Linked DNA regions of Homo sapiens: region 1 is linked to region 2. The links come from fine-mapping of genetic effects on gene expression. Tissue or cell type: neutrophils. Region 2 holds a variant in brackets; the other region holds the start of a gene. All regions are shown on one strand. Distances are from middle to middle.

The links. PIP is the estimated chance that this variant, and not a neighbour inherited with it, causes the effect.
Region 1: GNA15-DT starts here. The variant in region 2 is fine-mapped to the expression of GNA15-DT in neutrophils (BLUEPRINT, PIP 0.95).

Annotation. Positions count from the first base shown.
Region 1 is chr19:3,152,548-3,157,742 of GRCh38, forward strand. It overlaps GNA15-DT (GNA15 divergent transcript), which reads right to left and starts at 2,628. Exons shown (of 4, transcript NR_110670.1): 1 at 2,471-2,628. It overlaps GNA15 (G protein subunit alpha 15), which reads left to right. Exons shown (of 7, transcript NM_002068.4): 5 at 3,276-3,405; 6 at 5,181-5,195. RefSeq lists enhancers at 2,244-3,201, 2,489-2,818, 2,859-2,948.
Region 2 is chr19:3,552,631-3,557,630 of GRCh38, forward strand. MFSD12 (major facilitator superfamily domain containing 12) reads right to left here and starts at 4,956. Exons shown (of 10, transcript NM_174983.5): 1 at 4,476-4,956. The coding sequence starts at 4,773. RefSeq lists silencers at 4,382-4,551, 4,732-4,801, 4,842-5,000. The variant G/A (reference allele first, on the strand shown) is at 2,838.

The sequences.
Region 1 (5,195 bases), 400 kb before region 2:
TGGCCAGTGCAGCACCCTAACCCTAACCCTAACCCAGCAGAGCAATGGCCAATGTCAAAGGTCAGGAAAGGAAAGGTCAAGAATACAGTGAGAAGAATGACTCTGGGATTGGCAGTTAGAGGGTCACTGGTGACCTTAGCAAGATCTGTTTCCATGGGCTGATGGCGGGGAGCTGAGCAGGGGTGCAAAGTCATGCCCAGAGACAGCGATTGTGTTTGACCTACCCCTATTTGGCCTTCCTTTCCCTAAATCCCCCAAACCTATTGTTTTGGCCTCTTCAATAGTCCTTACTAGGAAGGTTCATAATTTATCTGTTTTCTGTGGGTCTCCTCTACAAGATGGAGAGCCTCACAAGGTTAGGGGCTGAGTTTGATTCTTCTGCTTCTTTAGTGAATAGCTAAAGGTCAGAGTAGAAGTTGGTAAATGTGGGTGGATGGTTGGAAAGATGGAATGGGGGCAACCCGCTCGGGTCCCCTTCCACGCTGTGGAAGCTTTGTTCTTTCGCTCTTCACAATAAATCTTGCTGCTGCTCACTCTTTGGGTCCACACCACCTTTAAGAGCTGTAACACTTACTGCGAAGGTCTGCGGCTTCATTCTTGAAGTCAGCGAGACCGAGAACCCACGAGAAGGAACCAGCTCTGGGACACAATAGTAGTGTTAGTACCCAAGGATGACTTCTATGGGAGAGATACTTGGTCTGGGAATCTTTAAAAAAAAAAAAAAAGGAAAGATGGAAGGGAATGGATGGGTGGATGAATGGGTGGATGGATAGATGAATAGATGGATGGATAAGTTGAGGGATAGATGAGTGGATGGATGGAGTGGCAGGATGGATGAGTGGATGAATCAATGGATAGATGGATGAGTGGGTGGATGGATGAATGGATGGATAGATGGATGGATTGAAAGAGGGATGAGTGGATGGATGGATGGATGGATGGTTAGATGGGTGGATGGGTGATACATGAATGGATGAGTGGGTGGATGAGTGGATAGATGGATAGATGGGTGGATGAATGGGTGGATGGATGGGTGAATGAGTGGATGGATGAATTAATGGGTAGATGGGTGGAAGGGTGATGGGTGAATGGATGGGTGGGTGGATTGGTGAGTGAAGGATGGATGGATGAGTGGATAGATGGATGGGTGGGTGGGATGGATGAATGGATGGATGAATGGGTGGGTGAATGCATGGATGGATGGGTGGATGAGTGGATGGATGGATGAATGAATGGGTAGATGGGTGGCAGGTGATGGATGAATGAATGAATAAATGGGTGAATGGGTGAGTGAAGGATGGATGGATGAGTGGGTGAATGGATGGATGAATGGATGAGTGGATGGGGGTGTGGGTGGGTGGATGGGTAGATGGGTGGACGAGTGAGTGGATAGATGGGTAGATGGATGTATGAGTAGATGGATAATGGGTGAACAGATGGGTGGATGGATAGATGAGTAGATGAAGCGATGGATGGATGGGTGGATTGAGTAAATGGGTGGACAGGCAGGTGGATGATGGATGGATGAATAGATGGGTAGATGGATAGACGGATAGATGGATGGATGAGTGAATGAATAGATGGATGGGTGGATGGATAGATGGATGGATGGGTGGGATGGATGGATGGATGGATGGATGAATGGGTGGATGGATGGGTGGATGAGTGGATGGATGGATGAATGAATGGGTAGATGGGTGGTGGGTGATGGATGGATGGATGAATGGGTGGATGGATGGGTGGATGAGTGGATGGATGGATGAATGAATGGGTAGATGGGTGGTGGGTGACGGATGAATGGATGAATGGGTGGATGGGTGAGTGGATGAATGGATGAGTGGATGGGTGGGAGGGTGGGTGGATGGGTACATGGGTGGATGAGTGAGTGGATAGATGGGTAGATGGATGGATGGGTAGCTGGGTAATGGGTGGACAGATGGGTGGATGGATGGATGGATGAGTAAATGGAGAGATGGATGGGTGGGTCGGTGGGTGGATTTCGTAAATGGGTGGACAGGTGGATGGATGATGGATGGATGGATAGATGGGTAGATGGATAGATGGATGGATGAGTGAATGGCTGGATGGGTGGATGGATGGGTGGGTGGATGGATGATGGATGGATGGATAGATGGGTAGATGGATAGATGGATGGATGAGTGAATGGCTGGATGGGTGGATGGATGAGTGGGTGGGTGGATGGGTGGATGGATGAGTGAATAAATCGATGAATGGGGTGGGTGGGTGGATAAAAGTTTAGGAGTGAAGGTAGAGGCTGGGAAATCATGGGGAAGTCTGGGCCAAGGAAGTGATTTTTAGGTGTGGCCCAGGAGTGAGACGAATGAATGGAGTGAGGGCTCAGAGGACACTGAGACCCGAGATGAGAGGTGATGCCCACAGTTCCCAACTGGTCAGTTGCTGATCCCACTCCCGTCTCAGTCTCCAGAGCCCCCTCTCGACGGCTGCTTACCCTGTCTGGCTCTGGATGTGGGGTTTGAGGGACTCTGAGGATGCATGGGAGGAGTGGGTCTCAGGGATCAGGAGACACATCCAGCAGCTGCAGCCTAACTGCTTCATCATCAGTCCCGGTTTCCCCTCCTGTGCAATGGGGCAAGTCCCTTCTTGCTTGAGGCCCTGGGCCGGGCCCGTCCAAAGCCTCTGTTCTGGGACTTCCTGAGTAACGGTTGCATCCCCAGGGAAATGACGCACAGATGGTTATCAGCGACCCACATTTCTCAGAAGAGAGAGAACAGGAAGGTGGGGGCAGGGTTCAGGCTTTTGTTACGGTGCGTGGGGCTGAGTCACAGATGGAGGGGAGGACGTGTGCTCTGGGAACAGCCCTCATTCCCATCTGTGTGGCCACTGGACATGCCCATGGCCAGCCAGAGCACAGGAGCCCCATAGCACAGATGGGAAAACTGAGTTTTGGAGATGTTTGGCAATTTCCTCCGCCGGGTCGCCCAGCCAGCACCAGGGCACATCTCAGATCTGTCCAACCTGCTCCCCTCTAATATGGGGGTAGAAAGCAGGCAGCCCAGCACAGTAGAAGCTTGGGAAAGTCCCCGCTCCTCCCTGGATCTCAGGCTTCTCATCTGTAAAATGGGCGTAAGACTCATCCTTGCCTCGCGGGAATGACATGGCAAATCCACGAGAGGCTAGCACCTATTCTTGCTGTCGCTATTATGGATCTTGGCATATCCCAGACGTGATGGGGGTTGGGGGTGTCACGGAGCAGGCTCCTGAGCTCTGAAAGGGGGCACCTCGGTTCCCTGTAGGATCGTGGACGTCGGGGGCCAGAAGTCAGAGCGTAAGAAATGGATCCATTGTTTCGAGAACGTGATCGCCCTCATCTACCTGGCCTCACTGAGTGAATACGACCAGTGCCTGGAGGAGAACAACCAGGAGGTGCGCCACCGCCTCCCTCGCCCTGCCCACTTGTTGGCCCAGGGACCCTCACCTGAGCAGGAAGCTCTGGTGCAGAAAGGGAGGGATCCCTGCTCTTGAACGGGCCTGTGTGTGCCCAGCATGGCTATGAACTTGACCCTTCAGCCTTTTGTGGTCAGATTGCAGCAACCCAAGACACAGACCTACAGCATTTGTTTGGTCAGGACCCCAGACACACACACACACACACACACACACACACACACACACACTACAGTGCACACACGCACATACACAATGCATGCACACAAACACGCACAGACACGTGCATAATACATGCACATACACACGTGCACACACGGGACACATGTACACACGCAGTGCACATGCACAACACATGCACACGAACACACATGCACCACACACATGCACACTTGCATGCACTCACGTGCACAATACACGCATATGTACACATGCGCACACACATGAACACACACATGCACACACACAGTACACACATGCACACGCACACACAGGCACACACACGCACACACAGGCACACAGGCACACACATGCGTGCACACACACATGCACGCACACGCACAGGCTGGAGTGCAGTGGCGCGATCTCGGCTCACTGGAAACTCCGCCTCCCGGGTTCACACCATTCTCCTGCCTCAGCCTCCGGAGTAGGTGGGATTACAGGCACCCGCCACCACGCTCGGCTAATTTTTTTTTTGTATTCTTAGAAGAGAGGGGGTTTCACCATGTTAGCCAGGATGGTCTCAATCTCCTGACCTCGTGATCCGCCCGCCTCGGCCTCCCAAAGTGCTGGGATTACAGGCGTGAGCCACTGTGCCCAGCCAATAGCCTCTTTTAATAAGTACACCAGTCGTCTAGGATCAGGGCCCACCCTACTCCAGTACGACCTCATCTGGGTTAATTCCTCGTGTGATGGCCCTGTTTCCAAAGAAGGTCACAAACTGAGGTTCTAGGGGGTTAGGTCTTGAACGTATGAATTTTGGGGAAATATGATGTACCCCATAACACAAGGCATTTGAGACCTTATTGTACTTTTTTTTTTGAGATGGAGTCTCGCTTTTGTCGCCCAGGTTAGAGTGCAGTGGCGCGATCTCAGCTCACTGCAACCTCCGCCTCCCGGGTTCAAGCGATTTTCCTGCCTCAGCCTCCCGAGTAGCTGGGTTTACAGGCACCTGCCATCATGCCCGGCTAATTTTTTGTATTTTTAGTAGAAACGGGGTTTCACCATGTTAGCCAGGCTGGTCTCCAACTCCTGGCCTCAGGTGATCTGCCCGCCTTGGCCTCCCAAAGTGCTAGGATTACAGCCGTGAGCTGCCGCGCCCGGCCAGGTCTCCCTCTTCTTATGAGGACAGCAGTCACGGACTTGAGGGCCACCGTATTCTAGTATTGCCTCACCTTAACGACCTCTTCAAAGACCCTATCTCCAGGCCAGGTGCAGTGGTTCATGCCTATAACCCCAGCACGCTGGGAGGCCAGGAGTTCAAGAATCTCTCTCCAGATAAGGTCACACTCTGAAGCTCTGGGGGGACATGAATTTCGGGAGGACACACTTCCAACCAGCACAGGCACAAAACCATGTCAGGCACACCCAGGCAGCTGTCCATATGGAAACACGGGCACACCCGCCTCAGCCCCAGCCAGGCAGATAGGGGTGAGCCCATGCCCCTGGAGCCAACAGCCCCGTCTCCGCGATGGGAGGGTTTCCTGTCCCACCTGGCTGGTTGAAGCACTAACCTGCTTCTGCCCCCAACACAGAACCGCATGAAGGAG
Region 2 (5,000 bases):
CATCCCACCACATCCAGCTAATGTTTGTATTTTTGGTAGGGATGGGGTTTCACCACGTTGGCCAGGCTGAAGTCGAACTCCTAGCCTCAAGTGATCCTCCTGCCTCGGCCTCCCAAAGTGCTCGGATTACAGACTTGAGCCACCATACCGGCTGTTACTTCAGTATCTTCTGAGTGAGTAACAATAGTGGCCCTGACACAGCCTGTAAGCGTGGGTGTCATTATCCTCATTTTCCAGATGGGAAAATTGAGGCCCCTAGAGTGAGTCGGAGCCAGGCTCCTTCCCTGCAGCCCTGCACTCCTCTCCTCCCAGCCTGGGGCACCTGGAAGGGCCCCTGTACCAAGCCTGGTGGCTGGACCTCCTTCCTCCCTCCGGAGGTGACCTCATCCCCAGACCCTGGGCCCGCCCCCAGAGAACTGGAATTGGGAAGTGAAACCAAAACCAGCCTCTCCTGCTGGTTTCTCTGGAACTAGGGCCTGGGAGGGTTTGCGCAGATTCCTGGGGTCCTTGGGGAGGTCATCCGGGGGCAGAGCATGAACTGTGGACTCCAGTGAGAAGGTCCCTTCCTGGCTGGACTCCCTGTTCCTGCTGGCCAGTCTGGGTTAACCATTGTTGGGGCCAGGCTGCCTGGCCTGGGGACCTCGGGCAAGTGACTGTGCCTCTCTAGGCCTCAGTTTTCAGAAAACAGGGATAGTGGCCAGGAGTGGTGGATCATGTAATCAATCCCAGCACTTTGGGAGGCTGAGGTGGGAGGACTGCTTGAACCCAGGAGGTCGAGGCTGCAGTGAGTCGTGATCGTGCCACTGCGCTCCAGCCTGGGCGACAGAGCGAGACCCTGTCAAGAAAAAAAAAAAAAGGCCGGGCGCGGTGGCTCACGCCTGTAATCCCAGCACTTTGGGAGACCGAGGCGGGTGGATCATGAGGTCAGGAGATCGAGACCATCCTGGCTAACATGATGAAACCCTGTCTCTACTAAAAATGCAAAAAAAATTAGCCGGGCGTGGCGGCGGGCGCCTGTAGTCCCAGCTACTCGAGAGGCTGAGGCAGGAGAATGGTGTGAATCCGGGAGGCAGAGCTTGCAGTGAGACTCCATCTCTCAAAAAAAAAAAAAAAAAAAAAAAAACAATGAAAAGAAATGAAACAGAGAAAGAAAGGAAAAGAAAAGAAGAGGCTGGGTGCGGTGGCTCATGCTTGTAATCCCAGCACTTTGGGAGGCTGCAGCGGATGGATCACCTGAGGTCAGGAGTTCGAGACCAGCCTGACCAACATGGTGAAACCCTGTCTCTACTAAAAATACAAAAATTAGCCGGGCATGGTGGCACGAGCCTGTAGTCCCAGCTACTCGGGAGGCTGAGGCAGGAGAATCACTTAAACCCAGGAGGTTGAGGTTGCAGTGAGCTGAGATCACGCCACTGCCTTCCAGCCCGGGTGACAAAGCAAGACTCCGTCTCAAAAATAAAAAATAAAAATAAATAAAAAATTAAAAAAAGAAGAGAAAGAAGGGTAGTGAAAGTTCCTGCCCATGGCCAGGCGTGGTTGCTCACACCTGTAATCCCAGCACTGTGGGGGGCTGAGACAGGCAGATCACTTGAGGTCAGCGGTTCAAGCCCAGCCTGGACAATATGGTGAAACCTTGCCTCTACTAAAAATTTAAAAATTAGCCGGCTTTGGTGGCACGTGCCTGTAATCCCAGCTACTCAGGAGGCTGACGCACGAGAATCCTTTGAACTCAGGAGGCGAAGGTTGCAGTGAGCCGAGATCCCGCTACTGCACTCCAGCCTGAGCGACAGAGTGAGACTCTGTCTCAACAACAACAAAACAAAAAAAAAAAAAAAAGAAAGAAAGTTCCTGCCTCACAGGCTGCTGTGAGGATAGAGTTCATGTGTGGCACCAGCAAAAGCTCCGTCTATTCTGAACCACTTCCTGCTTCCGCAGCTTCAAAGTGAGGACTGTTCCTACCTTTTCCACAGCTGTTTCTGCTACTTGGAATGCGCCCCTCCACACACTGCTACCCATCCGTCAAAACCTCAAAGTTAATGTCCTTCCTTCTGAAGCCCATTTGTGCCATCTGCCCACTCACAGGAGTGTTTGTGTCTGATTCTGAGGGTCGTCTCGGGATTGTGGGGGAGCTCCCCAGGACTTGTTAAAGGGCAAAGTGAGTCCTTAGCCACCAGCCCCAGACTTGGGGGTGAAATACAGAAGTGGGTGCCATTGCCAGGGTAACCTTCACTCAAGTCACCTGCTCAGGCATCAAGAGCGGCTGCCTGGGCTTCTGCTCCCAACAGACCCTCCTGACCCTCCAGGCCCACCCAGGTGGCCCCCACCTCTCAGCTCCCAGGGCAGGTGCCCTCCCCGAGGCGGGGAAGAGGGGTGACGGTGGACGCCTTGGTGTCCGGTTGGACCACCTGGTTCCCTGAGGTCTGCTTTGGAAAAACATAAAGCCTTCGGTTGCTGTTTCTGTTTGTTTTCTTGTTTTGGTTTGTTGTTGTTGTTTTTTGTTTTTTTAGACAGACTCTCGCTGTGTCTGGAGTGCAGTGGCGCGATCTTGGCTGACTACAGCCTCTGCCTCCCGGGTTCAAACGATTCTCCCACCTCAGCCTCCCAAGTAGCTGGGATTACAGGCGTGCGCCACCACGCTCGGCTAATTTTTGTACTTTAGTAGAGACGGGGTTTTGCCATGTTGGCCAGGTTGGTCTCAAACTCCTGACCTCAGGTGAGGAGGCCTCCCAAAGTGCTGGGATGACAGGGGTGAGCCACCGTGCCCGGCCCGCCCAGAAATTATCTTACGCGACTGTCAAAGAGCTTATCCAACTATTATGATCAAAGAGGCATTTGGG[G/A]CCCTGGGCTCCGCTCAGCAACCAATCCCAACGTAACCACAAAGGAAGGGACAGCCGGTCCCCTCCCTGTCTGCCGCCGCCTCAGGTACCCCAGGAATAGCCTGGACATAGGAAACATGAAACTCCAGTCCCCAAGCTGTGCCTGCTGCGGAGCCTGCCACCCTCAGACCACTGGAGATCCACTGCCTCTTGCAAAAAATGTCATCACCCAGATCCTGGGTCCAACCACCCATCCCAGTCATTGTTCCCAAGGGTGAGGAGGCACCCGCCTGCCCCTCCTGCCACCTGGAATTCCAAGAACTGAGCAGGATTCCTGGCCCTGCCTGCTGAAATGCCACATGTGTCCCAAATGCCAGGACGCAGCCGGCACTTCTGTGAGGGCAAGAAGAGCAGGGAAGGAGGCCGGCTAATCTTCAGGCCCAGGGTCCGGGAGGGGAGAGGAGGGCCGCTGGGAGGCAGCCCTGCAGTCTTATCGATGGGCACTGGGGCAGGGTGACCCAGCCCATGACGCCAGCCTCCTGCCCTCCCAACAGCCCTCTCTAATCAGGGCAGCTCCCCCAGACCTAGGGGGTCCCTGACCCTGGCCAGACAGATAGAGGCAATGCAAGAACAGGGCAGAGACCCCTGACCCTCCAGTCCCACCCAGGCGGCTCCCAACTCTCAACTCCCGGAGCAGCACCCTCAAACTGCTGACGCACCAGGTTGCCCTGGCAGAACACACAGAGAGAGAGGAGGCTCTAGGGGGCCTGACTGTCCCTCAGCCATAGCTGTCCCAGTTGGTCACCCTAATAGACGAGCTCAGGCTAGACAGACTGACAAAGGAGGCGCTGAGCAGTCACCACCAACCCTCCAGAGGGTTCAGGGTGGCCCGGGGGCTCAGACAAACAAAGGCATTCCCACTAGAAAGTCATGTAGTCAGATGGTGAGGGCCCCGCAGGTCAGACAGCAGCTCTGAGGCAGACAGGGGAGGCTGGACCAAGGGACAGACAGAGGGGATACGGGGCAGTTAAACAGACAGATGGGGGAGGCTCATGGCTCAGGCAGATAGAGAAGCCCTGCACAGTTGGACAGATGGGGGAGGCACTGCACAGTCAGACAGATGGGGGAGGCACAGCACAGTCAGACGGGGGAGGCTCAGGCCATGGGGCAGAAAGACGGGGGATGCTGGATGGTGGGACAGGCAGGGGAGGCTCAGGAGTGACACCACAGAGGGGCCACTGGGTAGTCAGACAGACGGGGGAGGCTCAGGCCACGGAACAGCCAGAGGGGTGAAAACTCAGCTCATGGGGCAGACAAACAGGGGAGACTTAGGTCCCAGGCAGGCAGAGAGAGGGGGCTGGGTGGTGGGACTGATGGAGGAAGCTCAGGCCATGGGCACAGACAGACAGACAGGGGAGGTTCGGGCCAGGGGACAGACAGAGGGGTGAAAACTCAGCTCATAGGGCAGACAGATACATAGGGGAGGTTAAGGCCGTGGACAGACAGTGCAGGGAAGCTCGGGCCACGGGACAGACAGACCGAGGGGAGACTCCGATCCTGAGGCAGGCAGACGGCGGGTGGTGAGTCAGAGGGAGGAGGCGCCCGGGTCGCGGAGTCTCGGAGGGGCTGCCCGACAGGTGGCGGGGCCGGGACGCTTACCGACCAGGTGCCAGGCCTTGCGCGGGCCGTAGCGGGCGCAGCAGCTGGCGGCGCGGTCGGCCTCGTAGCCCACGAGCGGTGTGCACAGCCCGTCGGCCACCTGGCCCAGCAGCAGCAGCAGCCCCGCGCCGCGGGAGCTGTAGGCGCGCACCGAGTGCAGGTAGAGCAGCAGGTAGGTGAACCACATGGACGCGCACAGGTCGTTGAGGAAGTGGCCCACGGCGTAGCTCAGCCGCGCCACCAGGGACAGCGGCCGCGGGGACGGCGCCGCTCCGGCCGCTGGGGGTCCCGGGCCCATCGCGGCGCCGGGCCCGCGCCCCCCACCCCCGGGCTCCGCGGAGGGTACCCTGGCCAGGCCTTCTTGGGTGCCGTGGGGGCAGGCGCCGGGGACCCCCACCACGCGCCGGGCACCCCGCGTCCCGCTCTCTTACGGCCGCGCCCTCACCCACGTCCGCCGCGTCCGCCCCACGCTCGACTCTGCAGCCGCCGGGCCCCAGAGCCGGGCGACTGCGCCGGGCGGGGCAG